2 separate regions of the Homo sapiens genome follow, and region 2 is linked to region 1. The links come from fine-mapping of genetic effects on gene expression. A gene starts in region 1. The other region holds a variant in brackets. All regions are shown on one strand. Distances are from middle to middle.

Region 1 (15,534 bases):
TTTTTTTGTATTTTTAGTAGAGATGGGGCTTCACCATCTTGACCAGGCTGGTCTTTAACTCCTGATGGTGATCCACCCACCTCGGCCTCCCAAAGTGCTGGGATTACAGGCATGAGCTACCGTGCCTGGCCCCCTTTTTTTTAATTACAGAGAAATAAGTTACACCTTAGTATCAGATATTAATTTTCTTCAGTGTTCAGGCAATTAGTATTTAGAAAGCTCTTGTCATGAGATGGCTCTGGGATGTGATGATGATTGTTGGGATTGAAAAAACGGTAGTATCATGGAGAGATCATAATAAATTCTTAGTATTAAAAGTGGTTTTGCTTTCAGTTAGGGAGAAAAATTAGATTGTACTATTTTTCCTCTATGATTTCCTTCAGTTATCTTCCAAATGTTGTTTTTTCCCCACAGCCCCCTTAACATTGTTCTCTATGCACTTCTCAATACATTTTCATTTGTTTCTCAAGCCTCTTTGTGGATGACTCCTAAATATAACTTCTTCCACTAGCTCTAGATCCGTATTTCCAATAAAATCCCCTACCTGAATATTCAAGTTAAACATGTCCAGAATACTTACTGATTTTATTGTTAATAGCCACTATTCTGTTGTCTGGAATTAAAACCTGTATAACTAATTTGCATCCCTTTATCTTCTTAGTCAATAAAACCTACAATCCTCTTTCTAAAATGGTCATAGTATACAACCTCTACATTATCTTCACACCTCCTTAATTTAGATCTTTTGTTTCTCATTTGGATTATAATTGTTTTCTCCTATGTGACTATAGTGTCTTTATGTCTTAAGTTATAAATAATACATGTTTAAGAATTTAAAAATCACAGGCATGGCCGGGCATGGTGGCTCACGCCTGTAATCCCAGCACTTTGGGAGGTCGAGTCGGGCAGATCACAAGGTCAAAAGATGGAGACCATCCTGGCCAACATGGTGAAACCCTGTCTCTACTAAAATTACAAAAATTAGCTGGGTGTGGTGGCACGTGCCTGTAGTCCCAGCTACTCGGGAGGCTGAGGCAGGGGAATCGCTTGAACCCAGGAGGCGGAGGTTGCAGTGAGCTGAGATTGCGCCACTGCACTCCGGCCTGGCGACAGAGTGAGACTCTGTCTCAAAAAAAAAAAAAACAAAAACCCAAAAAAACAAAAAAAAAACAACAACAAAACAGGCATATAAATTATCTAGAGGTAATCTGCAAATAATTGCTTCAGGCATTTCTACATGTATACAAACTAAAAAAAATTTTTTTCAACAAAAGTAGGTTGATACTATGCCTTGTACTGCTGCTGTACTTAGATTTTTTTTCATTTCATTATTTTATTTGAGAGAGGGTCTCGCTCTGTCACCCAGGGTAGAATGCAGTGTTGCTATCATGGCTCACTGCAGCCTCCAGGGCTCAAGCAATCCTCTTGCCTCAGCCTCCCAAGTAGCTGGGACCACAGATGCATGCCACCAACCCCTGCTAATTTTTGTATATTTTGTAGGACTTGGTTTCATTATGTTGCCCAGGCTGGTCTCCAACTCCTGGGCTCAAGAGATCTGCCAGCCTCAGCTTCCCAAAGTCCTGGGATACATGAGCCACTGTGCCCGGTCTTCAATTCTAATATATTTTTGTTATGTCACACATCCACCCTTCTTTTTAACAGCTGTAATCCATTATATGGCTATACCATACTTTTTTTTTTTTTTTAATTTTAGACAGGATCTGGCTGTGTTGCCCAGGCTGGAGTGCAGTGGTGTGATCTTGGATCACTGCAGCCTCAAATTCCTGGGCTCAAGTGATCCTTCCATCTCAGCCTCCAGAGTAGCTGGGACCACAGGTGTGCACCACCATGCCCAGCTAGATATATAGTCATTTTTATCAGTTCCTTAGTGATAGACATTTAAGCTCTATAACAGCAAGTTATACAAATAATATAACAAGTAAGTTGTATAACAGCAAGTTATTTAAGGATATGTATGAAGTTAGGAGATTTTTCTTGTGGGGAGGGCAGCAAGGTCAGCCTTTAAGGGATTCTGATGGAGCAGACCGTTGGCTCTCAAACCCCAGGGCTTGGCAAACGATGTGAGTTTAGCATCTTGCCAACTAAATTATTTATTTTGCTCAAGTTATCCTTTTTGCTTGCAACCAACGGCCTCTAATCAGCTGTACAGGTTTCTAATTGTTCGCTATTATGAATTGGTGCAATAAGTCCTTCGACATTCTTAGGTTCTTCGGCAAACATACAAGAATCTTAACTATTTATCATGTAAGTATTGCAATTTGTCTTATTTGTCTTCTGTACTGCTCCTTGAGAGCAAGGGCCACTTCTCATTACTCTGAATCCCAAGTACAGCATTGCATTTTTTTTTTTTTTTTTTTTGAGACGGAGTTTCACTCTTGTTGCCCAGGTTGGAGTGCAATGGCGCGATCTCGGCTCACCGCAACCTCCGCCTCCTGGGTTCGAGCGATTCTTCTGCCTCAGCCTCCCCAGTAGCTGGGATTACAGGCATGCGCCACCACGCCCGGCTAATTTTGTATTTTTAGTAGAGACGGGGTTTCTCCATGTTGGTCAGGCTGGTCTCGAACTCCCGACCTCAGGTGATTCGCCAGCCTCGGCCTCCCAAAGTGCTGGGATTACAGGTGTGAGCCACCACGCCAGGCCTAGCACTGCATTCTATAAATAATTCTTTTAAGTAAAATTCTCATAATATTAACCATCAACCATTTAAAAATGTACAACTGAGGCCATTTTCGTAAAAATAGCTCCATGTAGGTCAAAGACCACAAATAATTCTTACTGAAAGAATTTTTCAGTCTCAGATTAATCTTTCTAAATTATATCTTGTTCATGACCCAAGTAGTTAAAAAAAATTGTTGCTACCCACCACCTATAAGCCTAAATGCCTGATATTCAAGAACTTATTTCTAGATTATTAGTGATTCTCTACATGTGCACTCTAGGTCGGTTAAGTATAATTAGTTGTTTGCAATAAATACAGGAAAAATTAAATTCAAATTACGAATTTGATATGCCCTCTTTGTCTCACAAACCTTCAATTCTTGCAATCTTTACACATCTGGCAGGAAACTGTAGAAAGCAGATCCCATTTATAGGAAAGATGAATATCGCTGATACCCTTTCAATAGTCCCACGGCGACAACTTAGGCGGCAAGAATGAAGTGTGGGATGTGGGAACGAAGACTTCACAGTGTGTGGTCCCGTCCTCTCACCACCGTAATGAGAAATGACACCTCAGTTTGGAGCCTTCTAACTCGATTAGCTTTGGTAGGTGGAACGCAAGTCCTACAAACCTTAGACTGTTCCTTCCAGAGAGAACCACTAACCATGAACCTTCTGCACCAGGGTTTCTCAAAGTGCGGGCCACAGACCACCTGCTGCCGAATCACACGATGCTGGGTGAAAACGCGGATGGCCTGGGCCCCACCCTGGAATCTCAGAGTCCGAATACTTAACTACGGGTGTGGCTCTGAAGTCTGCGCTTTCCACCAGTACGCCAGGTGGCTCCGTCTTTGGCGCGCAAGTTTGAGAGCCGTGGGGCCCCGCCCTCCGCCAAGGTGGGCGTGGGTGGCGTAGCAGAGCCCCAAGCTCAGGCCGCCTGCGCAGGCTAGGGCCGGAGGCACGCAACCCTGAGGCAGCGAGTCGCCAAGTCTCGTATGCGCCCCGCAACGCGGGAACTAGGCGATCGCTCCACGCTCCTCCCCTCCTTTCCCCTCCCACAGCGTCCTGCGCGCATGCGCTTCGCAGCTTCTCTCGCCGCCGCGCCCCCAGCTGCTCTGGTTACGGTTGGTGTTTGCGAATTCTCTGCGGCACCTTCTTCGCTGAACTCCACCGTCAGTTCCATAGGCGCGCGCCCGCGTCACGTGGGCCGAGGTTCCGGCGCGGCTGCTGGCCGGCGGCTGAGCCGGGAGAAAGGAGCTGCGGCCACCGTTCGCCCTACTTCTGCGCCTCGGGGCGGGCGCGCCGGTAAAAATGGCGAAATGGGGGTAGGCGGCGCTGGACCTGAAGAGATGGGGCGCGCAGGTGGGGCGGTTGTCAGAGCCCCCTGACGTGGGCGCCGGGCTTTTATCGGCGATTTGATCTGGCGACCTCGGGCCGGCGCCTAAGAGGTCAGACTGCGGAGCCTGCGGGTCGCCAGCGGCCCCGCCGAGAGCCGGAGGCAATGGATGAACAGAGCGTGGAGGTGAGGGGGTTGTGAGGGTGGTGGTTAGTCCCCGCCCCCACCCGATGAGCGGTTTTTATTCGGGGAGTCGTGCCCATGTCCTCCCTCCAGTAGGGCACCCCTACCCCGCCCCTGCCGCTGTGGAGAGGGCTGGCCCGGTACCAAGGATGCCGTGCCCATTCTGCAGCGCTCCGGGTGTCTTGTGCTCACTGTTCCGCAGTCAGGTGGTGCGTATCCTGGAGTTTTCAAGGATGTCTTGGCACAGGTACTCATCCCCACCGGGTGTTTGCAAACAGCATCCTTTTCCGACCAAAACTGCAGATTCATCAGATGGATGTACCCTGCCACTCGCCACCAGTCCTTGCGAGTTCTTGAGCTGATCTAAATCTCCTTCCAAATGGATAGTCATCTTTCCCTCTCAGTGGCACATTTTGCAGGCTTCTGCCCTTCCTTCCTAGATTGAATCAGCATATATTATCTCATGTGTAGTTTCCAGAACAAACTCTTCTTTTTATAACTGATTCTTGTAAGCTGTGAGTTAAAATAGTTGGGATATGTAGGATATGTAAGTAAAGGCTAGGAATATATTTTAAAAGATTGTTTATTGAACATAATTGTGTAATCATTATCAAATTTTGAACCTTTCAGATACTGAAATAGGAAATCCTTGCTTTTTAGTAAGGGGTAACTATGTTATGGATATTCCACTTGAAACTAGTCATTCAGTAGTCTTATTGTCCACCCCGTTGCAGGTTACAGAATCTGCATCTCCCAGGTTCTTTCTGGCCCTACAGAGTCATGATGAGATTAATGAGTAATTTTCTCCTTAATTCCTCATATAAAGTATTATAAAGGTTTTGTAAACTTATCTTGGTTTTAGGAGGGTTTAATTCTAGAATGGAGTGAAAGTAAATGTCAGTAATATAAAAACAAAGTATACAATACAATAAGTATACGTTTAATTGTATCCTTTTTCTTGTTAAAAACTTTTCAGTTACTTCCTAAATTGATTAAATTGAGGCTTGCAAACATAATACTGTTTCTTGTATTTACATATTTTTGTTGTTGTTGTTCCCAAGATCGCTTTGAACTACCGTCAACATTTTCAATTGGGGCAGAATCTCAGGTTCAAATAAGTAGCTAGTCTGTTGTAACATCAGGGCAGCAATTCAGATTTCTGGATTCTGAATTCATTTTTTTCTGGGTCACAGTACACTGCCTTTAGGATGTGTCTTTTTAAACTTCTTTTTCCTCTAAATTATAAAATCAGTTTATACCTTTTGGGGAAATTGCAGAAAAAGTTAAAAGTTCATGTTGTGTATTCAGTCATATAGTCTGCCTTTTTTCCTTTTTTCTTTTTTTTTTTTTTTGAGACAGAATCTCACTCTGTCACCCAGGCTAGAGTGCAGTGGCACCCTCTTGGCTCACTGCAACCTCCGCCTCCTAGGTTCAAGCAATTCTTCTGCCTTAGCCTCCTGTGTAGCTGGGATTACAGGTGCACACCACCACGCCTGGCTAATTTTTGTATTTTTAGTAGAGACGGGGTTTAACCATTTTGGCCAGGTTGGTCTCGAACTCCCGACCTCGAGTGATCCACCTGCCTCAGCCTCCCAAAGTGCTAGGATTACAGTAATGAACCATCATGCCTGGGCCTTTTTTCCCTGCTGTTATACATTATATGCATTTTTCTATATCATTAGATGAAGAAGTATTTCTGGTGACTGTAATCTATGTGTAACTGCCATAATTTACTTAATATTTGGACATTTGGGCTGTACCTAGATTCTTGCCATTATAATTACTGCTTTAGTGAAAATTTTTCTGCATGTCTGTGTTTGCATTTCCTATATTTTCCTTAGAATAGAATCATCGTGAAACCAAACGGGAGTACATTTTCCAGATGTTTTGAGGTACTCTGTATCTTGACCAACCAAATCCTGATATGGAATAGTTAAAATTGAGAGATCAGCCCAAAATAAATGTAAATGTCAAGTTGTTTTGAGCTTGCCTTTTACTCTTGATTCAGTAGCCTAAACTGGTGGACCTTACATCTTTTACTGTTTTCAGAGCATTGCTGAGGTTTTCCGATGTTTCATTTGTATGGAGAAATTGCGGGATGCACGCCTGTGTCCTCATTGCTCCAAACTGTGTTGTTTCAGCTGTATTAGGGTAAGTTGTATTTCTTTTTACATGCAGTTAGTATATATAGTATATATTGTAAGGATTAACCATTTCCCTTATCTTTTTATTTTACATTTTTTGCCCTAAAGTGCTTGCTTGCACTGTGCTTGGGGTTGAGGAATACTAAGATAAATGACAAATTGCCTGCCTTGAAGGAGCTTAAATCTAATTGAGGGAATGGAGTTTAGAATGTTTATTTTGAAGAATGTGCGGTATCATAAGGAGGCACTAAAGAAGTGCTGTGGGGCTCAGAAGAGGACTGGTTTATATGTGTTTGGTGAGTAAGATAGAGAAAAAGTGTTTAATCTTACAATTACAAGACACTCTAGAGATGAATATAATCTAGTGGCTTTAAAACTTGAGTGTTGGTGCTTTGGGAGGCCGAGGTAGGTGGATCACGAGGTCAAGAGATCGAGACCATCCTGGCCAACATGGTGAAACCCTGTCTCTACTAAAAATACAAAAATTAGCTGGGCATGGTGGCATGTACCTGTGTCCCAGCTACTTGGGAGGCTGAGGCAGGAGAATTGTTTGAACCCGGGAGGGCAGAGGTTGCAGTGAGCCGAGAGAGCGCCACTGCACTCCAGCCTGGCGACAGAGTGAGACTCCGTCTCAAAAAAAAAAAAAAAACTTGAATGTTGGCCTGAGCGCGGTGGCCCAGGCCTGTAATCCCAGCACTTTGGGAGGCCGAGGCGGGTGGATCATGGTGTCAGGAGTTCGAGAACAGCCTGACCAACATGGTGAAACCCCATCTCTACTAAAAATACAAAAATTAGCTGGGCATGGTGGTGTGTGCCTGTAATCCCAGCTACTCAGGAGGCTGAGGCAGGAGAATCGCTTGAACCCAGGAGGCGGAGGTTGCAGTGAGCCGAGATCATGCCAGTGCACTCCAGCCTGGGTGACAGAGCGAGACTCTGTCTCAAAAAAACAAAAAACAAAATAACAAAATGAGGAAGTCCAAGATTTTGGTTGTGTATGCGAGAGTCCAATAGCACATCTACAGAGCATAGTTGAAAACTGCCTTGTTCACATTCCCCTTCAATTATTTATTTTCCTGAGAAAATCAAAGAGGTCACATGCTCTTCACCTCAAACTTTCTGTTTCAGCTGGGCGCAGTAGGTAGCTCACGCCTGTAATCCCGGCATTTTGGGAGGCTGAGGTGTGTGGATCACCTGAGGTCAGGAGTTCGAGACCATCCTGACCAATATGGTGAAACCCTGTCTCTGCTAAAAATACAAAAATTAGCCAGGCATGGTGGCATGCTCCTGTAGTCCCAGCTACTCGAGAGGCTGAGACAGGAGAATCACTTGAACCCGGGAGGCAGAGGTTGCAGTGAGCAGAGATGGTGCCACTGCACTCCAGCCTGGCGACAGAGCGAGACTTCGTCTCAAAAAAAAAAAAAATTTCTGTTTCCTTATTCTTGCCTAAGGAAGATACATATGCCTTTGTCAAGAGTATTATCCGTAACACTTAAATAATTTTTTTCTAGTCACACAGCTCACAATTGATGGTACTGGATTTGAACCCATTAAGTTCAAGAACTCTATAGCCTGTTCTTTGTCACTGTACCATGCGCAGAAGACCCAGTTAAATATGATGTTAGTTCTCATACTTCTAAAACTAAGAGATTCACTCTTTCTTGGCCTTCTTTCTTCAGCTGTAGAATTCAGATATGATTTGCTTTACAGGGTGGTTATGGCATTAAATGAGATAACCTAAGGAGTAATTCAGAAATTATGAAATACTATATCTACTTGTTTGTAAGGTGTTATTTTATTGTTAAAATAGCAACTAATACACATTAACACTTACCCATGTTTTAATAAACAGTGAAACTGATGCTAGATAAATTAAGTAATTGGACTCCGTTATAGTTAATTAAGTGGTAGAATCTGGATCTGGGCGCATTTCTTTTGATGAAGGTCCCATGTGCTTATGGTCTCTGGTTGTTACCTTATGCCTCATTGATTCTGTATTTTTTCATTGTTACATCTTCTTCCTCCTGCCCCTTAAATGCATTTATTTCTTAATTTCCTAAGATCTTGTTGCTGTCGTTCTCTACTCTGAGGTTTCTGGGAGTATTCACCTACTTTGGGAAATTTGATTTACTTTAGCAGCTTTAGCTATCATCTCTGTGTGTATGGCTCCTAAATCTATTCCTTCAGCACTGACTTTTGGATGTCTTGTCCTTCTAGCATCTTGAACTTTGTTCAAGATCAGATTATTCATATTATTTTCTCAAACCGATTCTAAGTTCATTCTTTTTGTTCTGTTCTGCTAGTCACTCAAACTGGAAACTTTATACCAATGATTTTTTTATTTTTTATTTTTTATTTTTTTTTGAGATGGATTCTTGCTCTGTTGCCCAGGCTAAAGTGCAGTGGCGTGATCTTGGGTCACTACGACCTCCGCCTCCCAGGTTCAAGAGATTTTCCTGCCTCAGCCTCTCAAGTTGCTGGGAGTATCAGCGCACTCCATGATGCCCGGCTATTTTTGTATATATATATGTATATATGTGTGTGTATATATGTATATATATAAACATGTATATGTATATATGTGTGTGTGTGTGTGTGTGTGTGTGTATATATATATATATATATTTTTTTTTTTTTTTTTTTTTTTGTAGAGATGGGGTTTCACTATGTTGCCCAGGCTGGTCTCAAACTCCTGACCTCAACTGATCTTCCCTCCTTGGCCTCCCAAAGTGCTGGGATTACAGGCATGAGCCGCTGCCTCTGGCCTATACCAATGATTTTTAAGTGCAATTAGTTATTATCTCCCTGTTTCACTTATATTTGTCTTACCCTTCTGTTTTTATCATTACCATGCTAATAGAGAAGTATGAACATTGGTTACCTCATGCTTAGATTATTTAATTACTTTCTGTCTGATCTCTCAGGTTTGAGTCTTTTCTTATCTCCAGTCCATTTTCTGTCCTGCTACTATATTAATATTTTTCACTGATATCTCTTTCTTTTCCCCAGAAGCCTCAGAAATGTATTATGTAAAGGATAAAATCCAAGAATGTTAGCCTTGTGTTCAGACCATCCAGATCTGGTTCTGACCTTTCTTTCTAGGGCTGTCTTGGTTCCTGAATGCACTAATCATTTGTTCATTCATTCAGCAAATATTGATTGCTTGCCTACTTGTTTTCAAGCCAGTCATTTTTTATTAGGTATAACTGACATGCAGTAAACTACACATATTTAAAGTGTACAGTTTTTTTGTTTGTTTTGTTCTTTTTTTTTTTTTTTTGAGACGGCGTTTTGCTCTTGTTGCCCAGCCTGGAGTGCAATGACGCGATCTCCGCTCACTGCAACCTCCATCTCCTGGGTTCGAGTGATTCTCCTGCCTCAGCCTCCCAAGTAGCTGGGATTATAGGCATGCATCACCACGCTTGACTAATTTTGTATTTTTAGTAGAAACAGGGTTTCACCATGTTGGTCAGGTTGGTCTCAAACTCCTGACCTCAGGTGATCCACCCACCTCAGCCTCCCAAAGTGCTAGGATTACAGATGTGAGTCACTGAGCCTGGCCAAGTGTACAGTTTTGACATATATGTATTCTTGTGAGACAATCATTGCATCCAAGTTAGTGAATATATCTGTCATCCCCAAAAGTTTCCTTGTGCCTCTTGGTAATTCCTCCCTCTACTTGCCTTGTCCCCAGGCAACCATTGATCTGCTTTCTGTCACGATAGATAAGTTTGCTTCAGAGATAAGGGGGATGGAAAAAGAGAAAAAAGATAAGTTTGCATGTTTTGGAATTTTATACAAATGAAAATCATACAATATGTACTCTTACGGATCTGGCTTTTTTTCACTCAGCAAAAATACTGTATGTATCAGTAGTATTCCTTTTTATTGCTAAGTAGTATTCCATTGTATGTATTTACCACAATTTGTTTATGCATTCACCTGTTGATGGGCATATGGCATGTTTACAGTTTTTGCTATTACAGTGAAAATTGCTGCGAACATTCGTGTACAAGAAGCTTTCTTTTCTCTTGGGTAAATAATTAGTAATGGAACGGATAGAGATTATGTGGTAGATGTGTGTTTAACATTTTGAAAATTGCCAAGCTATTTTCTAAAATACTTGTATCTGGGAGCTAAACAATGAGCATACATGGACATAAAGGGGGAAATGCTAGACACTGGGGACTTCAAAAGAGGGAGAGGAGGAGAGGGATGAAGGTTAAATTAAAAAAAGGATTGGGAGGCCGAAGTGGATGGATCACCTGAATTCGGGAGTTCGAGACCAGCTTGACCAACATGGAGAACTCTGTCTCTACCAAAAATACAAAATTAGCCAGGCCTGGTGGTACATGTCTGTAATCCCAGCTCCTTGGGAGCCTGAGGCAGGAGAATCACTTGAATCCAGAAGGCGGAGGTTGTGGTGAGCCGAGATCGCACCATTGCACTCCAGCCTGGGCAACAAGAGCGAAACTCTGTCTCAAAAAGAAAAAAAAGGAAATAGTTTTATAATTTTACATTCTCACCAGAAGTTTATGAGAGTTCCAATTCCTCCACATTAATGCTAACAGTTGGTGTGTTCGGTTTTGTGAATTTTAGCCATTCTCAGGGACGTGTAGCCATTCTTACAGGTATCTCCTTGTTTTAGTTAGCGTTTCTCTGTTGAGTAATGATGTTAGCATCTTTTCCAGGAGTTATTTACCATCCATATGTTGTCTTTGGTAAGGGGTCTGTTCAGTGCCCCCCATTTTGTGCTAAAATAAATATAACAAAATTTTCCATTTTACCCATATTTAAGGGTACAGTTCGGTGTCTTTAATTACATTCATAATGTTATACAACCATATCACTATTTCCAAAATCTTTCATCACCCCAAACAGAAAGTCTGTACCCATTAAAAAAAAAGAAAAAAGAAAATAAACATAAGTAAACATAGAAAAGGTATATTAAAAATACAGTATAAAAGATAAAAAATGGTACACCTATGTAGGGCAGCTCCATTCTAATCTTACGAGACTACTGTAGTATATGCGGTCCATCATTTACCGAAACATCTTTATGTGACACATGGCTATATACCACTTTTTGTTTATCCTTTTTCTTAAGTTTTTTTGTTTTTTGAGACAGAGCCTCGCTCTGTCGCCAGGCTGGAGTGCAATCGTGCGATCTCGGCTCACCACACCCTCCACCTCCGAGGTTCAAGCGAGTCTGCTGCCTCAGCCTCCCGAGTAGCTGGGACTACAGGTGTGCGCCAGTACACCCAGCTAATTTTTGTATTTTTAGTAGAGATGGGGTTTCACCATGTTGGCCAGGATGGTGTCGATCTCTTGACCTGGTGATCCACCCTCCTTGGCCTCCCAAAGTGCTGGGATTACAGGCGTTGAGCCACCGCGCCTAGCCTATTTATCCATTTTTATCTCTTGATGGACACTTGGGTTGTTTTCACTTTTTGGATATTGGATATTGTTAATAGTTCTGTTGTTAACAATTATCTGTTTGAGTTCCTGCTTTCATTTCTTTTGAATATATATCTAGAAGTGAAATTGCTGGGTCATATGGTATTCTGTTAATTTTTTTTTAATTGTGGTAAAATATACCTAATGTAAAATTAGCCTTTTTTTTTTTTTTTTTTTAAATGAGACAGTGTCTCACTCTGTTGCCCACGTTGGAGCACAGTGACACAATCATGGCTCACTGCAGCCTCAATCTCTTGGGCTCAAGCAGTTGGCCTGCTTCACACTCTTGAGTAGCTGGGACCACAAGTGTGTGCCATCGTGCCTGGCTAATTTTTTTATTTTTTGTAGAGACAGGGTTTTACTTTGTTGCCAAAGCTGGCCTCAAACTCCTGGGCTCAAGTGATCTGCCTGCCTTGGCCTCCCAAGTGCTAGGATTACAGATGTGAGCCACTTGGCCCAGCCAAATTTGCAATTTTAACTGTATTTTTAAGTGTACTGTTTAGCGGCATTAAGTACATTCACATTGTTGTGCAGCCATCACCACTATCCACCTTTAGTACTTTTTCATCATCCCAAACTGAAACTCTGTACTTGATAAACAATAAATTCTCATTATTCTCTTCCCCCTAGCCCCTGTTAACCACTATTCTACCTTCTGTCTTTACATTGACTATTCTAAGTACATCATATAAATGGAATCATAAAATATTTTTGTTTATTTCTACCTCTCTATTCTGTTCTATTAGTCTCTATTTCTGTTCTTATGGTAGTACCACACTGTTTTGATTACTGTAGCTTTGTAGTAAGTTTTGAAATTAGGAAGTGTGAGTCCTCCAACTTTTTCAAGATAGTTTTGACTATTTGGCATCCCTTGAGATTCCATGTGAATTTTAAATGCAGTTTTCTACCAATATAAAAAGTACCATTGGAGTTTTAGTAGGGATTACATTGATTCTGTACATGCCTTTGAGTAATATTGCTGTCTTAACAATATTAAATCTTATGATCCTTGAACATGGGTGTCTTTCCATTTATTTAGGACTTCTTTAACTTCTTTGAGCAGTGTATTGTAGTTTTGCACGTATAAGTCTTTCTTTTTGTTTTTTATTGTTTTGAGACAGGATCTCACTGTCACCCAGGCTGGAGTGCAGTGATGCGATCATGGCTCACTGCAGCCTCAACTTCCTGGGTTCAAGAGACCCTCTTGTCTTGGCCTCCCAATGCTGGGATTATAGGTGTGAGCCACCACACTCAGCCTCCATGTATGTCTTTCAAATTCTTGGTTTTTTTTTTCCCTAAGCATTTTATTCCTTTTGATGCTGTTGCAAATGTGTTATTTTCTTAATTTCGTTTTTAGATTGTTCATTGCAAGCTTATAGAAATGCCAGTGTTTTTTGTGTGTTTGTCTCCTGTAACTGTTGTGTTTATTAGCTTTAACAATATTTTGTGGACTCTTTAGGGATTTTTACAGATAAGATCATGTCATCTGCAAAAAGATAATTTCACTTCTTTTTTAATTAGGATACTTTTTATTTCTTTATCTTGCCTAAGTACTCTGGCTGGAATTTTTAGTACCTGTATTATGTCAAATAGAAATGGTAAAAGCTGGCATCCTTGTCTTTTTCCTGATCTTAAGGGGAATTTTTCCTGATCTTAAGGGGAAGAGTTTTTAGCCTTTGAATCGTTGACTATGATTTTTATGAGTTTTTATATATGGCCTTTATCAAGTTGAGGAAGTTCCCTTCTATTTCTATTGAGTATTTTTATCATGAAAGGATATTGGATTTTGTCAGATGCCTTTTCTGCATCAATTGAGATGATCATAGTGGGGGTTTTCCATGAAGTGGTTTATTACATTGAATGATTTTTGTAGTTGAATCATCTTTCTATTCTAGGAATAAATCCCACTTGGCCACAGTGTATAATTTTTTAAATAGTCTGTTGAATTAGTTTTATTGGGATTTTGTTGAGGATTTCCCTAGCACAATTTCTCTAGTAAATATCTTAAACTCCCAGACCACATATACATTAAAATTTTTCATATAGCATTATGAATGAGGATGCACAGTACATGTCAATAATGATATCTCTGATTATATTCTGAAGAAATGGAAGGAATTTAATAAATACTTATATTTTTAATTAATTTCAAATGCAGGATTAGGCATTGGAAATAGTATTTAATCAATCATGAGCCCATGATCTAAGATTTTTAATAATTGCTGTAATTAATGTTTCTTAAAGACCTTGTTTTCTGTTACAAAGTTGGTTTTTTTTTTTTTGTTTTTTTTTTTTTGAGACAGAGTCTCACTGTCACCCAGGCTGTAGTGCAGTGGCACGATCTTGGCTCATTGCAACCTCTGCCTCCTGGGTTCAAGCGATTCTCCTGCCTCAGCCTCCCGAGTAGCTGGGATTACAGGCACCCACCACCATGCCTGGCTAATTTTTATATTTTTAGTAGAGGCGGGGTTTCACCATGTTGGCCAGGCTGGTCTCGAACTCCTGACTCCAGGTGATCCACCCACCTCGGCCTCCCAAAGTATTGAGATTACAGGCGTGAGCCACTGTGCCCGGCTGATGTTTTTTTTTTAAACTCTCTTTTTTTGGTCTCCTGTTACACTAACAGTAATTTTATTTACCATCTGGCTTATTTAGTTCTGTATGCTAGATAATTAATATATACAATCTTTATGATAATTACTCATTCTTACAGGTTTTTGGAAATGAACAAAAGGACAGCTTTTCCCTTTCTTTGGTAGACATACCATAAGAAGTGGACTTTTGTTATAGTTTAGTGGTATAGATGTTTGTAAGAAACTATTTTAGTCTGGGCACAGTGGCTCATGCCTGTAGTCCCAGCACGTTGGGAGGCCCAAAGATGGAGGATTGTTTGAGCCCAGGACTTCAAGACCAGGCTGAGCAACATGGCAAGATCCCATCTCTGCAAAAAAAATTAAAAAATTAGCTGGATGTGGTGGGCACACCTGTAGCCTCAGCTACTTCAGAGGGTCAGGTGGGAGGACCTCTTGAGATGAAGAGGTTGAGGCTGCAGTGAGCTGTGTTTGGGCCACTGCTCTCCTGCCTGAGTGACAGAGTGAGACTTGTCTCAAAAACAAAAACAACCCCAGAAAGTATTTAGCATGTTTTTGTATGTATATATAGTTTGCCTCAAACAGTACATTAGGGGATGTAAGAAATTTTGTATGCTTTCACAAGGCATCTAAGATCCTCTATGATCGGCCTCCTAGTTTCCTTGCAATTTTGAGCTGTTTGGGAATAAAAGTCCTTTGTTAACAAATTTCCTATTTACTGCCTGTTTTCTCTTATAGCTAAAAGTATTTAAAAGAGTGTTTTCCACTCCATTTCCCTGCAACCTTGCCATCTACTTACCCTTCAACCCATTCTAACTTGGCTTTAGCTCCCTCCACACTACTCACATAGCTCCTGCAAAGTGTAGACTCAGTTTTGCTAAATCCAATGAACCTTTTGTTGGCCTTATCTTTCCTTCTCGGAGCATTCAGCATAAATTACTTCATCTGTTTTTCTTGAAACGTTATCTTTGGTATCTTTGCCATAATAGCTATACCATCTTCCTAGTAACTTCATGGTCTATGGATTTTTTTTTTTTAAGAGACCGAGTCTTGCTCTGTCATCCAGGCTAGAGACAGTGGCATGATCATGGCTCACTGCAGCCCTGACCTCTGGACTCAGTTGATCCTCCCACCTCAGCCTCCTGAG
Region 2 (15,560 bases), 43 kb after region 1:
TTTTTTCCCTTTGTTGATGAAGTTATGATGAGGTTACTGGTCTGAAGATTTGCAGATCAGTGACTTCCAGATTCCTGGGCTAGAGATGGTTTGAGGGTAGTTTCCCATATTCTGTGAAGACAAAGATTCACTGACACCATCATGAGATGAATCCAGTCATCATAACCAGAGCAGTCTACACTTCTAAGAGAGGAGGAGAAAATTTTAAAACTATGAAAAGATAAAGCAGTGCCTCATCTGCAGACACAGAATGATAACATCAGTATGATTGAAGATAATCTCTAAATGAATGAGCATAATATGGAGATGTGGTGGTGGAATTAGATGGCCTAGCAGTAGCAATAGCTTTGTATATACATATAAAGAATGCAAAATCAGTGAGCCGAGATCGCGCCACTGCACTCCAGCCTGTGTGACAGAGCGAGACTGCGTCTCAAAAAAATAAATAAATAAATAAATAAATAAAATTTAAATTTAAAAAGCAAAGTAATTTCTTTCGCAAAAGAAATTTTTGAGCAAATATTTCCAACTCTACGAATCTGCCAGCAAGTATTTATAAACATTCATTCAGTGAATATATGCCAGCTATATTTTAGGCATGTGTTAAGTGCTAGCATTAAGCATAATACAGAGCTCTTTGGGTTTATAATTATGATTTAGAAAAACAGGTTATTGGAACAGTAATAAAATTAATGTGGTAACTGGTGATAGGGGAAGTAAGTATCCTGTTTAATGCTGCCCCATACCACTAATTTGTCATTATACTATTTGTGTCCAAAAAATTTTCCCTAGGAGAATGTACATATGTAAAAGTATATCACAGTACCTGTTTTCTGTGCTCTGAATGTGGTCATTTTCTCCTAGCAAGTGAGACTAGGGTAAACTGGACTGTACTCTCTTGGTTCATGAGTGTTAGTAACCTATGCTCTTTAGCCTGGAAGCTTTCTACTTCACCATTCTGAGTTGAAAATGGCATCTCTTGTTGTTTAATTTGGGTTCTGCTGAAGTCTTTTGACCCTTAATGGCCAATAAAATATGATAATGATAGTCTGGACTTAGAGCAGAAATAACAGTAACAACAACACAGGAAATAAATTACACTGGACATGGCAGAAGAAATAATATGCAGATTAGCAGGCAACTGGGGATTGATTAAAGTCTTTGCATGTTGTGGAGGATATTCTGTACTTGATGAGAGACCTGATTGAAAGTTGCACAAAATTTCAAAAACATGTCAAATTTGAAGGCTATACTGGGAAGACTCCCTTAGAGCTCTTACTAGGTTTATGGTTCCAGAAAGGCTTCCTAGGCACTAATTGCATTGGTCCTGCTAATTGGAGTTTGTGTATGTTGAGTGCTAGGAGATCATATAATGGGAAGACCTTAGAGCAAACCTCCAAGAGTATGTGACTTCTAATCTGTTATCTGAAGAAATAGTAAGGGTTAACCAGGCAAAAGGATATGGGGATGAGGAATGTGAGTCTTCTAAGAAGGATAACAACTGACTAGGGATATCATAGGAATTCTTGACATAGTCAATTTGGATAGTAGCTATACAGTTAATCACAGGGCAAAGTACATCTGCTTACTGTGTAAAAGACGTGACCTATTTAGCTATACGTACTTACATTGAAATAAAGAATTATTTGTCTATATTGTATTGCAAGCCACTAATTTCTTTAGACACTATCATAGTGTGGCAGTGCTATAGATGTATATTTTATCTTGTTTTGATAATAACCAAAATTATGATGAATTGAACTTTAGAAAATATATCTGAAGATGTGGTGAAATGGTTTGCAGTTTATTGTTTTGGGAAATTTGTAATTTTATATATCAAATTTATAACACTATTAAAACATCGTATGATAGTCTTTTTCATAGTATAGTGTTTTAATGAGTTTTGAGGTGTTCTAATGAAAGTGTACAAACCATCCACATGATTAAAGGTAGTTAGCAGCAAAGTGACTTTTAGTCCATTCTGTGATTATAATACAGTTCTCTCTGAAGAAGATTGGATGGGACTAAAGTTGCTTGAAGTAGTTTTGACTTGCCAAGAAAGTGTGAGTGTGCTAGTCCATCACAGTTGCCCCTTAGGTGATGAGGTATTCATCCTATAAAAATGTGTAGATTTATTTGCTAGTAAATAGTTTCAAAGTATTTGAGGTCTGTTAATATTTCCCATAATCCATTCCAGAGTAGGAAGTTTGGGGATTAATTGTGTTATCACTGACTGTTGTTTCATTTTTTAAAGGATGTTTTATATCTGTTTCATAATTCAGATTCACACCCTAAGCGTCAGTTTCTTTTTCCCATTTCCATGAGTACTTTTTAAAGTGTATTTCTTGTACTTAGTTTAATAATTATATAATGTGTTGCCTTTTTTTCTTTTAGGAAAAAAAGCTTTTATAAAGTATTTATTTATTGATTTATTGGTTGACTGAGACAGAGTCTGGCTCTGTCGCCCTCGCTGGAGTGTGGTAGTGCAATCTTGATTCACCGCAACCTCCGCATCTGGGGTTCAAGCGATTCTCGTGCCTCAGCCTCCCAAGTAGCTGGGATTGCAGGCGCACACCACCACATTTGGGTAATTTTTGCGTATTTTTAATAGAGATGTGTGGTAGTGCAATCTCGAATCACCGCAACCTCCACCTCTAGGGTTCAAGTGATTCTCGTGCCTCAGCCTCCCAAGTAGCTGGGATTGCAGGTGCACACCACCACATCTGGGTAATTTTTGTGTATTTTTAACAGAGATGGGGTTTTACCATGTTGGCCATGCTGGTCTTGAGCTCCCGACCTCAGATGATCCACCCACCTTGGCCTCCCAGAGTGCTGGGATTATAGGGGTGAGCCACCTCACCCAGCCAAAAAACTTTTATAAAGTATTTGTATCTCCAATTTAATTGCAAACTTGATGGTTTTATGAATTCATTTGATTTAATGTTATGTTCAATAAAGATTTAAAAATATTTCTTAGATTTTAGTTTAATAAAGTTTTTAAGATACTAGTGAGGGACTTGGCTTTTTTAGGCAAATGGAATTTTAAACATGTAAGCTAAATAATTTTTTTTGCCTTTTTTTTTTTAGTGAATTAGTGCCATCTTACGATTCAGCTACTTTTGTTTTAGAGAATTTCAGGTAAGAGTTTTTGACAATTCTGGTTTTTTTGTATGTGTATATAAGGAAGAGCCAGAAAGGTATTCTTTGGTAAGACAGTAATCTAGTGAACTGTGTCACTCACTTTAGAAGTCTTAGAAGAATAAGTTTCCTATTAGAAATGTAGAGATAATTTGTGCTGGATTATATTGTATCTTTAGACTGACTGCTTCTCTAGTCTGGGAAAAGGAACCTTTTCTTTTTATTTTGAGACTGGGTTTTGCTCTGTCACCCAGGCTGGAGTGCAGTGGCGTGATCATTGCTCACTGCAGCCTCAACCTCCTGGGCTGCAGCAATCCTCCCACCTCAGCCTCCCAAGTAACTGGGACTACAAGCGTGTGCCACCACACAGATGGGGTCTCACTGTGTTTCCTAGGCTGGTCTCAAACTCCTGGGCTCCAGTAATTCTCCCACCTCAGCCTCCCAAAGTGCTGGAATTATAGGCATTAGCCACGGTGCCCTGCCCAAAGTGAGGAACCATTTTAAATAAGAGAGATCACTTAGCTTTGACTAAGGTGGGGGGCTGGACAGTTAGAGGTTGATGAGCCCCCTCTTACCTATCCTCAGAAATAAAAGTGCTGGGAAGAAATCCATTGAGATCCATTTATCTCAGCTCAAAGTGAAGAATTGTGGATAAGGGGCCATTATTGTAAGAAATGTGTAGGCTTTGTCAGTTGTATGTTAATTTTGTTAGCTTTTACTACTTTTTCTCTTAAGATCAGAAGTGAAGATCGTAACATGCAAAGGTTCTTAGCAATTTGTCTTTGAGGGCAGCATGGAAGTGGAAACAAGGACTATAAGGTCTTCAGGAGAGAAACTCCAAATAATAGGCAAAGGCCATCAAAATAAGGCCACACTGGGCAGGGCATGGTGGCTTAAGCTTGTAATCCCAGCACTTTGGGAGGCCAAGGCGGGTGGATCATCGAGGTCAGGAGTTCAAGACCAGCCTGGCCAACATGGTAAACCCCGTCTCTACTAAAAATACAAAAATTAGCTGGGCGTGGTGGTGGGCGCCTGTAATCCCAGCTACTTGGGAGGCTGAGGCAGGAGAATTGCCTGAAACCGGGAGGTGGAGGTTGCAGTGAGCTGAGATCGTGCCACTGCGCTCCAGCCTGGGCAACAAGAGTAAAACTCTGTCTGAAAAAACTCTATCTCAAAAAAAAAAAAAGCCACACAGAATTTATCCCTCTTCCCATTTAATTTGTCTTTTCTTAGGGTTACTTTTGTGGCTAAAACATAGTCTCTTTGAGGTTTTTCCCACACGTATTAAGGTTTAGTGTACTCTTGTTCTTCAATATTAAAAGATGATTATACTGCAGAGAAGCGAGGAAGAAACATTCTGGGTTTTGTTTTATTTTTAATGGTGAAGACTGCTTGTTGAAGCATTAATTAATTTTGGGAGACTTGGTGATACATTCCTTTTCCCTTAAATGTCACAATTTTGAGGGTTTTTTTTCCCCTGAAACTTAAAAGATATTGCTGAATATTTCAGTATCTTTAAATTTTCTTTATTTCAGGATGTAAGCATATCTAAACTTTTACAGTGGAATTTTGACCTGTTCAGTCACCTTGTTATTTGTCTAGGATTTCAAGTATGTAACAAAGAAACTGGTTGGTCTTTCTTTTTGCCTGTTGCCATTTCACAACAGTTTTGATCTTGGGATTTGGTTGGTTTTCTTTTTCGTTAGCACTTTGCGTCAGAGAGCAGATCCTGTTTACAGTCCACCTCTTCAAGTTTCAGGACTTTGCTGGAGGTTAAAAGTTTACCCAGTAAGTTTTTCATATTTCTAATAAATTTTGAAACCAAGGTCTTTCTTTCAGAGTTCTGTAGTATACTAATTTGATTACTGAGAACTGTTAACTCTTCTTTTTTTTGTTACATATGCTGTCCGCATTCCCTGTTCCCCTTCTTCCCCCATATTAGACAACTGTTTGTTTGTCCACACCTTGTTCTCTAATACATTCTGCTGGAAGGCCTATTGGAAACAATGTTCCCTGAGTTCTCATATGTTGAAAACAGTTTTTGCCTTTTATATTCTAAGGCTAGTATTGCTGGATATAAAATCCTTGGCTCATATTTTCTTTCATTGGGTATCTTCAATATGCAATTCCATTTTCTTTAGGAAAAGTCTGATAATAAACTAATTTTCTTTACCTTTAAAGATGTTTGGTGATATTGCCTAGATGCTAAATAATCTTTTTGAGTCCAGTAATTTACTATTACACATTTTAGCCCTCCTGGGTTAGTATTCTCAGTTACACATTGAAGTCTTTCAATATGTAGTTTCAGATTATTTTTTTTTTTTTAGAAAAGTTTTGTATAATGGCATTACACAATAATATATCATCTTTTATGTCTGGCTTTATTCACCTAGCTGATGAGTCATTTATTCATTGATATCTACTGAGTGATTATCATGTCGAACCTCAAAAGTTGCCTCAGGTCCTTTCAAGCAAAGTAGACTAAAAATGAAGGGGTTAATAGTACTTGTACCTCTCTGTAGTCATATCCCAGTAGACACTGGAGATGTATAAGGATCTCTGTTGTCAGCCTTCATTGTCTCGTTGGGGGAACAGATGTTTAAACAAGTAGTTATAATAAATGTGATTCTTTTAAAACATAGACACCTGAAGTACTAGGGAAATACATAGGAAGTAATTCTCTTTTTTTAAAAGAGTCTTGCCAAATTAAACAAAAAGGGAGGGAGTAATTATCTTTATAAAAATAAAATCTATAGTAGAGATTTAAACAACTTCTCAATCTCTAGACAGAATCTTATATGGAATTCTAATATTAAAATCATATAGAAATTATATTTAATTACTTTCAGCATAGGGTATTACCTTTTTGTATGTTGGTCTTAAAAATTAATTTTTGGTTTAAAATTTTTTTTTGCTTCACTCATTTCTAATGAAATTATTTTTCCCATTAGGGTCTTGTTTTTTTATTAAGGTTGATTTGTAAGAGTTCTATATATGTTAAAACTCTTAACCTTTGTTGTGGTTGTTGATATTTCCCTTCATTTTTGTGCCTTAATAGTTTCACTTTTTTTTTAATGCACAAAAGTTTAAAGTTGTTAAGAACTCAAATCTATTGGTGTTTTTAATTATTTCTTCCATTGCTTTGAGGCTTAGAAGTACTTCTCAATCTAGATATCAGATATTATCTGCATTTTGTTTTATTGTGGCTTAATTTTTTTACACTCAAACTGATTATTCTTCTTTTAGGATGGAAATGGAGTTGTGCGAGGTTACTACTTATCTGTGTTTCTGGAGCTCTCAGCTGGCTTGCCTGAAACTTCTAAGTAAGAAGTGTAATTAAATAACAACCTTAATGTGCATTTACATACCTTCCCCCTAGCAATTTTTGTTAATTTTTATTTTTGTTAATTACTGTATTGGTATGTCTGTTAAGATGTAGAATAATATGTTCTTGGCATCATAGGATGGTATTTTTCTAAAAACAAAATATTTTTAAGAAAACTTGTATTGCTTTGCGTTTTTAGAAATCTCTTTACTATCTGGCTTAGAAGAAGACTACTGGATTCTCATGTCTGCTTTTATATTCAATTTTTTTAAAATATCATTTTGATTGAAATACATGTATGAAATCTGTCTGCAGAGTTCTACAACCATCACCAACATCTAATTTTATAACATTCTATTTACTCCACAAGGAATCCCTGTACTCCTTAGCAGTCACTTCCCATTCCCCGTTTCCCTCAGTCCCTGAGAACCACAAATGTACTTTTTGACAAGGAGGAATATTTTTTAAAGTGGTTTTAGATAATTGTGGATCTTCTTTGATATTACATCCAAACTGAACAAGTGGTAGGTTGTTAAATGTTATTTACAATGTGGGATCTGGAATCATATTAATGATTTTTTTTTTTAACTCTGTTACATGAAATCTGTTAGTTTAGTATGGAATGTCTGCTTTCAGCTAACATGAAGCAAGAGGGATGAGATCTACCCATTTTCCTGCAACAACCAAAAAAAAAAAAAGACCTCATGAAACAACATTTTCTAGACACTGGACATGGTGGTAACAAATGAAAGTAGTCCCTGAGAGATGAGAAACACAAACTAACTCTACAATTTCTCCAGCTTACAGCCTTGAGAGAGTTTTCAGGCTGCAACACAGGGAGGAGCTGGGACTGAGGGAGAATCTGGCAGACTTAGTTGAGGGGATAGTGCTGAGAGTCTAGAAAGGACAATACAGCTAGAGCGCATTGGACAAAATACCAGAGAGGAGAAAGCTGCAGAGACTGAAGTCTAGAGATCCGTAATGGGTTCCCCTTGAGTATTCAGCAGAGTACTTATCAGGGCATATGTCTGAGGAAACTACCTGAGATTGGGGAAAGAACTCCTTGACAGGATTAGAGGGAATAGTGAGTGACTGGTGTTCACACGGGGCCAGGAACTGTGTCTATTGCAACCTGCCACGGTGGAGAAATTTATAATTCATGGGTCACTGATTGGGTATAACACTAAGGAAGTTTTTGTCTCGATAGCAGAAATTAGCCCTAGACTGAACACTGCTCTGGACCCACCTAACAAAAGTGAGA[C/T]CTGAAAGGATCAAATTGTTTTCAAGTAACTTAACTGCATCCCAGAAGGAAGCTCAAGAAAATTTATAAGGTTGCTGAAGTATCTAACATCCAACAGAGTAAAATTTACAGTGTCTTGTGTTCAGTCAAAGGTTAATATGCCAGACTGGCTGGCCCATACCTGTAATCCCAGCACTTTGGGAGGCCAAGGCAGGAGGATTGCTTGAGACCAGGAATTTGAGACCAGCCTGGGCAATATGGTGAGACCCTGCATACGTCTCAGCTACTCAGGAGGCTGAGGCAGGAGGATTGCTTGAGCCCAGGAAGTCGAGGCTGCAATGAGCTGTGTCCGCACCACTGCACTCCAGCCTGAATGACAGAGTGAGACCCTGTCTCAATTTATTTATTTACTTAATGTATTTTGAGTCTCACTTTATCACCCAGCTTGGAGTACAGTGGCATGATCTCAGCTCACTGCAACCTCTGCCTCCCAGGTTCAAGCAATTCTCCTGCCTCAGCCTCCCAAAATAGCTGGGATTACAGGCATGCACCACCACGCCCAGCCAATTTTTGTATTTTTAGTAGAAACGGGGTTTCACCATATTGGCCAGGCTGGTCTTGAACTCGTATCCTCAGGTGATCCGCCCACCTCAGCCTCCCAAAATGCTGGGATTACAGGTGTGTGCCACTGTGCCCGGTCAAGAATTCTTTATATATTTTGGATACTAAACCTTTATCAGACATATGATTTGCAAATAGTTTCTCCCATTTGGTAGGTTTTCTTTTCATTTTCTTGATAATGTGCATTAATGCACAAAAGTTTATAGGCTATCTTCTTTGTCTTTTTGTAAACCTGAAAATTTTACAAGATTGGATATATAAATTAGAATATATTGGCTTTCCCAATGTATACTTCTTTTCTTTTTGAGACAGGGTCTTGCTGTGTCACTGAGGCTGGAGCACAGTGGCACAATTATGGCTCACTGCAGCCTCAACCTCCTGGGCCCAGGTGATCCTCCTGCCTCAGTCTCCCAAGTAGCTGGGACTACAGGAATGCACTACCGTACCCAGCTAATTTTTTTGTTTTTTGTTTTTATGGAGACGGGGTTTCGCCATGTTGCCCAGGCTGGTCTCAGACTCCTGGGCTCAGGCGATCTGCCCACCTCGGTCTCTTAAAGTGCTGGGATTACAGGTGTTAGCCACTGTGTCCAGCTTACTTATTTTCTTTTTCCTTTTTCTTTTCTTTTTAACTTTTATTTTAGGTTTGGTGTTACGTATGAAGGTTTGTTACATAGGTAAACTCATGTCATGGGGGTTCATTGTACAGATTATTTCATCACCCAGGAATTAAGCCCAGTACCCAATAGTTATCTTTTCTGCTCCTCTCCTTTTTCCCACCCTCTGCCCTCAAGCATACCCCAGTGTCTGTTGTTTCCTTCTTTGTGTTCATAAGTTCTCATCATTTAGCTCCCACAATATAAGTGAGAACACGTGGTATTTGGTTTTCTGTTCCTGTGTTAGTTTGCTGAGGATAATAGCCTCCAGCTCCATCCATCCATGTTGCACAAAAAACATAATCTCGTTCTTTTTTATGGCTGCATACTTATTTTCTATTAGGAAATTTTATAGCCTTTGATTTTCTGAATACACAATAATTTGCTTTCTTATCACTTGTACTGGCAAAATACAGTAGAGTATTTCAAAATTTATATTTTAAAATTGCAAGGTGATAAACCTCAAAGGATAATAGAAATAACAATATTTATGAGGAAACATATGTAGTGAATATATGGAAAAAATATTGCATTAGTAAAACAAAAGCAACTTTGAATTACTTGTTTATTCAAAATTTATTTATTTTTTGAGGTGTTGTTTTATACCTGATATATCGGTAAACATCTTTACGAGGAAAAAAGGACCTATTGCCATTCATGTTTTGGTGGTTCGTTCAAAATACTGCTGTTTTGGCTGGGCGCAGTGGCTCACACCCGTAATCCCAGCCCTTTGGGAGGTCAAGGAGGGTGGATCATCTGAGGTCAAGAGTTTGATACTAGCCTGTCCAACATTATGAAACCCTGTCTCTACTAAAAATACAAAAAATTAGCTGGGCATGGTGGTGTGCACTTGTAATCTCAGCTACTTGGGAGGCTGAGGCAGCAGAATCACTTGAACTGGGGGGCAGAGGTTGCAGTGAGCTGAGACCCCGCCACTGCCCTCTAGCCTGGGCTACAGAGTGAGACTCTATCTCAAAAAAGCAAACAAAAAAATACTGCTCTTTTTCTGGCCGGGTGTGGTGGCTCACGCCTGCAATCCCAGCACACTGGGAGGCCAAGGTGGGTGGATCACCTGAGGTCAGGAGTTCAAGACCAGCCTGGCCAACATGAACCCCCGTCTCCACTAAAAATACAAAATTAGCTAAGCATGGTACACGCCTGTAATCTCAGCTACTCTGTAGGCCGAGGCAGGAGAATCACTTGAACCTGGAGTCAGAGGATGCAGTGAGCTGAAATTGCACCATTGCACTCCAGCCTGGGCAACAAGAGTGAAACTCCATCTTAAATAAATAAAAAAACCCCAAAATACTGCTGTTTTTATAAATGATAAAAGAAATGTAACTGCGTATATCAATAAGGTTTCTTCTCAGGTAATTACTTAGTGACCTTAATGTTTAGATGAGTTTGTTTTTTATTCTTACTTTACTAACTGTATAGTAATGGTCTGTTTTTCAATTTTAGATATGAATATCGTGTAGAGATGGTTCACCAGTCCTGTAATGATCCTACAAAAAATATCATTCGAGAATTTGCATCTGACTTTGAAGTTGGAGAATGCTGGGGCTATAATAGATTTTTCCGTTTGGACTTACTCGCAAATGAAGGATACTTGAATCCACAAAATGATACAGTGATTTTAAGGTAACAGGAAAAATTTGATGTTGTGGTTTTTATTGTGGGGAAATAATATCATCAGAACTATATTTCAAAGATCATTTGGTTAACAAAGATGAATATTGAAATTCATACTAACTATAACCTTATCACCTTTTTTTTTTTTTTTTTTTTTTTTTTTTTTTGGAGACATAGTCTCGCTCTGTCGCCCTGGCGCGATCTCGGCTCACTACAAGCTCCGCCTCCCGGGTTCACGCCATTCTCCTGCCTCAGCCTCCCGAGTAGCTGGGACTACAGGCGCCCGCCACCACGCCTGGCTAATTTTTTACTATTTTTAGTAGAGACGGGGTTTCACTGTTTTAGCCAGGATGGTCTCGATCTCCTGACCTCGTGATCCGCCCGCCTCGGCCTCCCAAAGTGCTGGGATTACAGGCGTGAGCCACCGTGCCCGGCCCCTTATCACTTTCTTAACTGTTTTATTTAAGTGGATAATAATCAAAAATTTGTAGTCAAAAAGTCAAACTTTTTTTGACATCTAGTTAGCAATTCCATTAAAGATAAGCTGGGTGCAGTGGTGCGCCGGTGTTTCCATCTACTATGGAGGCTAAGATGGGAGGACGGCTTGGGCCCAGGAGTTTGAGACCAGCTTAGGAAACATTATGAGACCCCCCATCTTTTTAAAAAGAAAAAAAAAAGGGGGTGGGTGGGAAACTACAACTTCCAGTAAGTATAGTAATGTTCCATTTGTCTGTTGAACTTCTAGTGACCTCACCATTTGGAAATCTAAGAATAGTGAGGGATAAAGTGCTGATTTTTTTCACTTCACAGTGCATATTATATTTGAGTGACTGGTTTTACAACTTAATTTTATAAAGCAACTATCAGTTCTTTGTCAATAACAGCAAATTAAAAGTAGAAGAGTCAAGATGAAAGTTGACGAAAACCAGCAATTTTCTACTTTTTTCTTAAACTTTTATTTTAGGTTCAGGGGTACATGTGTAGGTTTGTTATACAGGTAAACTCACATCATGGTGATTTGGTGTACGGATTATTTCATCACCCAGATACTAAGCCTAGTACCCAATAGTTATTTTTTCTTATCCTCTCCCTCCTCCCACCCTCCACCCTCAAGTAGGCCCCAGTGTCTGTTGTTGTTACCCCTCGTTATATCCTTGAGTTCTCATCATTTAGCTTTTTTTTTTTTTTTTTTTTTTTTGAGATGGAGTCTCCCTCTGTCGCCCAGAGGCGACATATCGGCTCACTGCAAGCTCTGCCTCCCGGGTTCACACCATTCTCCTGCCTCAGCCTCCCAAGTAGCTGGGACTACAGGTGCCTGCCACTGCATCTGGCTAATTTTGTTTTTGTATTTTTAGTAGAGATGGGGTTCCACCGTGTTAGCCAGGATGGTCTCGATCTCCTGACCTCTTGAGCCTCCTGCCTCAGCCTCCAAAGTGCTGGGATTACAGGCCTGAGCCACTGCGCCCGGCCCATTTAGCTCTTAAATAATAAGTGAGAACATGTGGTATTTGCGAAAACCATCAATTTTTTTTTTTTTTTTTTTTTTTTTTTGAGACAGAGTTTCTAGTTGCCCAGGCTGGAGCGCAATGGCGCGATCTTGGCTCCCTGCAACCTTTGCCTCCCAGGTTCAAGCGATTCTCCTGCCTCAGCCTCCCGAGTAGATGGGATTGCAGGCACGCGCCACCATGCCTGGCTAATTTTGTACTTTTAGTAGAGATGGGGTTTCTCCGTGTTGATCAGGCTGGTTTCTAACTCCCGACCTCAGGTGATCCACCCACTTCGGCCTCCCATAGTGCTGGGATTATAGGCATGAGCCACCACGTCTGGCCAAAACCATCAATTTTTATTGTTGATTGTTGGTGTAGTATTTACAAGAAAGGATAGAACGTAAATACTGACTCAAACAACAGCCCTATTTAGCCAGGTGTGGTGGCTCACGCCTGTAATCCCAGCACTTTGGGAGGCTGAGGCAGGCAGATCACTTGGGCTCAGGAGTTTGAGAGCAGCCTGGCCAATATGGTGAAATCCTATCTCTACTAAAAATACAAAAATTAGCCGGGCTGTGGTGGCACGCGCCTGTAATCCCAGCTACTCAGGAGGCCAAGGCAGGAGAATCGCTTGAATCCGGCAGGTGGAGGTTGCAGTGAACCGAGATTATGCCACTGCACCCCAGCCTGGGCGACATAGCAAGACCCTATCTCAAAAATAATAATAAAGTAAATAAAAACAACAGCCCTGTTTAACGTGGGGTAGTCTTTACAGGTCAGAAGTTTTTGGGCATTGGCTGGGTGCCGTGGCTCACGCCTGTAATCCCAGCACTTTGGGAGGCTGAGGTGGGTGGATCACCTGAGGTCAGGAGTTCAAGATCAGCCTGGGCAACATGGTGAAACCCTGTCTCTACTAAAAATACAAAAATTAGCTGGGCATGGTGGCAGGCACTTGTAATCCCAGCTACTTGGGAAGCTGAGGCAGTTGAATCGCTTGAGTCCGGGAGGCAGATGTTGCAGTGAGCCGAGATTTCACCAGTGCACTCCAGCCTGGGCGACAAGAGTGAAACTCCATCTTAAAAAAACAAAAAACAAACAAAAAAAGGTTTTTGGGTATCATTACATGATGTTATAATTTGATGATCAAAATAAGAACTTGAATATTTAAAAAAGATTAAAATATGTTCTGAACTGAGAAGTTTCAGAGTATTTAACAGTTTAAAAAGTTCTCATCACAACAATTTTAAACATTTTTTTCTTGAGAGTGATTTAATGTACTCCTGAATTTCCCTTATTCGGAGCTCTTTGTTCTTGAGCATACTGGACAGATGAGTTGCTATCATATCAGCATTTACTCTTATGTGTTTTCCGTAGCTTTTCTGGAAGTATAAAGAAGTTTAACAAGGGATATGATTTTCAGTGTAGGGAAAAAGATATGTTTTTGTTATTGTTTTGTTTTGTTTAGAGTCAGTGTCTTGCTATATTGCCCAGTCTAGTCTAGAATTCTCGGGCTCAAGTGATCCTCCTGTCTCAACTTCCCAAGTAGGTAGGATTACAGGTGCATGCCACGGTGCCTGGAATCATGTTTTTTGAGGGGAGGGATTATTTTAGTTTTCTTCGTATAGCTTTTCAGACTTTTGGGGTTTAACTATTCACCAAGAGAAATAATTTATTGCTATTTCATGCTTCAGCCATAGAGAGAATTACAAAATTATTCAAACATCAATTTTACCAACCTATAAAAGACCCATTTTCTTATAGCCTTGATTTCATCCTTATTAGCGTTACTTATTAGTACAGAAACAAATTCCTGTTATGACATCATTTTTTTTAAGCAACATTGAGTCTATACCATATGCCTGACACTGAGTTGCTAATAAGAAAAATATAGACATGGTTTTTGTCCACAGGGAACTCAAGATGAAATTGGCAGATAAAAACAGAATTTACTACTCTCTTATTATAAAATAATGCTATAGTAGCACCGTAAGTAAATTGCTATGAAGTTTGTGGATAGGGGGCTTCACATTATCCTATTAATGAGACATTGCTCAAACTTTAAACCTTTTATTTCAAGATTCTGGTGGAATTTTGTATGTATTTATTAGAAAGTTATTTAAGGCTTTTCTATAACTATGAATGTATGTTTCATTCTTTCATTAAAACAGAAAGTTAAGAAATTTTACCTGCTGCTTGGTTTTGTTTTAATGGCAAAATATTAGAACTAATGTGCAGAGTTAACCAGTGGTTTAAATCATTCAAAGAAAATAATAGTGTTTAGACGGTCTTACTTTAATGTCTTACCAGTGGGTACTTCCTAGACTGTGAATCGTCTCTGCTCAGTTGAGTGAATCATCTCTACTCAGTTCCGTTCAGAACGTAATTTAATCTCTTGATTTGATTTGATTTGATTTGATTTGATTTGATTTGATTTGATTTTTTGAGACAGAGTTTCGCTCTGTTGCCCAGGCTGGAGTGCAGTGGTGCGATCTCGGCTCACTGCCACCTTTGCCTCCCAGATTCAAGCGATTCTCCTGCCTCAGCCTCCTGAGTAGCTGGGATTACAGGCGCCCGCCACCATACCCGGCTAATTTTTGTACTTTTAGTAGAGACGGGGTTTCACCATGTTGGCCACGCTGGTCTCGAACTCCTGACCTTAGGTGATCTGCCCACCTCGGCCTCCCAAAGTGCTAAGATTACAGGTGTGAGCCACTGTGCCCGGCCAATCTCTCTCTTTTTTTAATACTCAAGTTCTCATTTTGATCATCCAGTTATAACATATAATGATGCCCAAAAACTTCTGACCTATAAAGACTATCCCAACATTAAATAGGACTGTTGTTTTATAGTCAGTGTTTATGTTCTGTCCTTTCTTGCATTAGTATTCTTCACTAAAACTAGATATCTACTGCCAGATAACTGTTAAATGGTCAGTAGGTTCTTACAATAAGGTGTAAAATCCTAGAAAAAAATGAACAGCTAACATTGTGTAGCCGGGTAAAAGGGCTGGAAGGAATGAGAGAGATGTAGATGTCCAAATTAGTCTTGCCTTGTGGTTTTTCCTTTCTTCAAAAACACCTTCACACATGCACTGCAATTTTTTCACCTTAAATATAGTCACGTTAGGCTATGTAACAAAGGTAGAGGTTTGTTTGCTTTAGTAATAGTTTTTTTTTTTTTTTTAATTAAAACAACTCTGGATAGATTAAGATTCTGTCATTTATATATTAATACGATTTTATGTAGGTGCAGTACTTTTTTTCCTAACCTAAGCTGAAATAATGCCATATTGTAATAAGGGCAGTTTTGATTGCTATCTTGAAGGGTTCAGGATATAGTTTATTTAGAGCATGTAACTCCTTGGGGGATAGTAAAGCAATCCTGGGTGGTTGAGCCAGGAAGTGATTTTTTTTCTGAGGGGCAGGAAATACGGGAACGTGAGATGGAATAGAGAAATATAAAGA

The links.
Region 2: its variant is fine-mapped to the expression of TRIM37 in whole blood (INTERVAL, PIP 0.96).

Annotation. Positions count from the first base shown.
Region 1 is chr17:59,095,108-59,110,641 of GRCh38, reverse strand. TRIM37 (tripartite motif containing 37) reads left to right here and starts at 3,762. Exons shown (of 24, transcript NM_015294.6): 1 at 3,762-4,201; 2 at 6,248-6,349. The coding sequence starts at 4,181. SKA2 (spindle and kinetochore associated complex subunit 2) reads left to right here. Exons shown (of 4, transcript NM_182620.4): 4 at 1-785. It overlaps LOC124904039 (a long non-coding RNA gene), which reads right to left and starts at 3,546. Exons shown (of 2, transcript XR_007065864.1): 1 at 3,051-3,546. RefSeq lists enhancers at 3,239-3,318, 3,359-3,408, 3,779-3,878, 3,355-4,014, 3,969-4,098 and 2 more and a silencer at 3,539-3,648.
Region 2 is chr17:59,051,933-59,067,492 of GRCh38, reverse strand. It overlaps TRIM37 (tripartite motif containing 37), which reads left to right. Exons shown (of 24, transcript NM_015294.6): 10 at 3,088-3,138; 11 at 4,845-4,926; 12 at 6,385-6,461; 13 at 10,439-10,618. It also overlaps the pseudogene RN7SL716P. Among named protein-coding and RNA genes, the nearest start is that of TRIM37, 47 kb to the left of the region's middle. The variant C/T (reference allele first, on the strand shown) is at 7,725.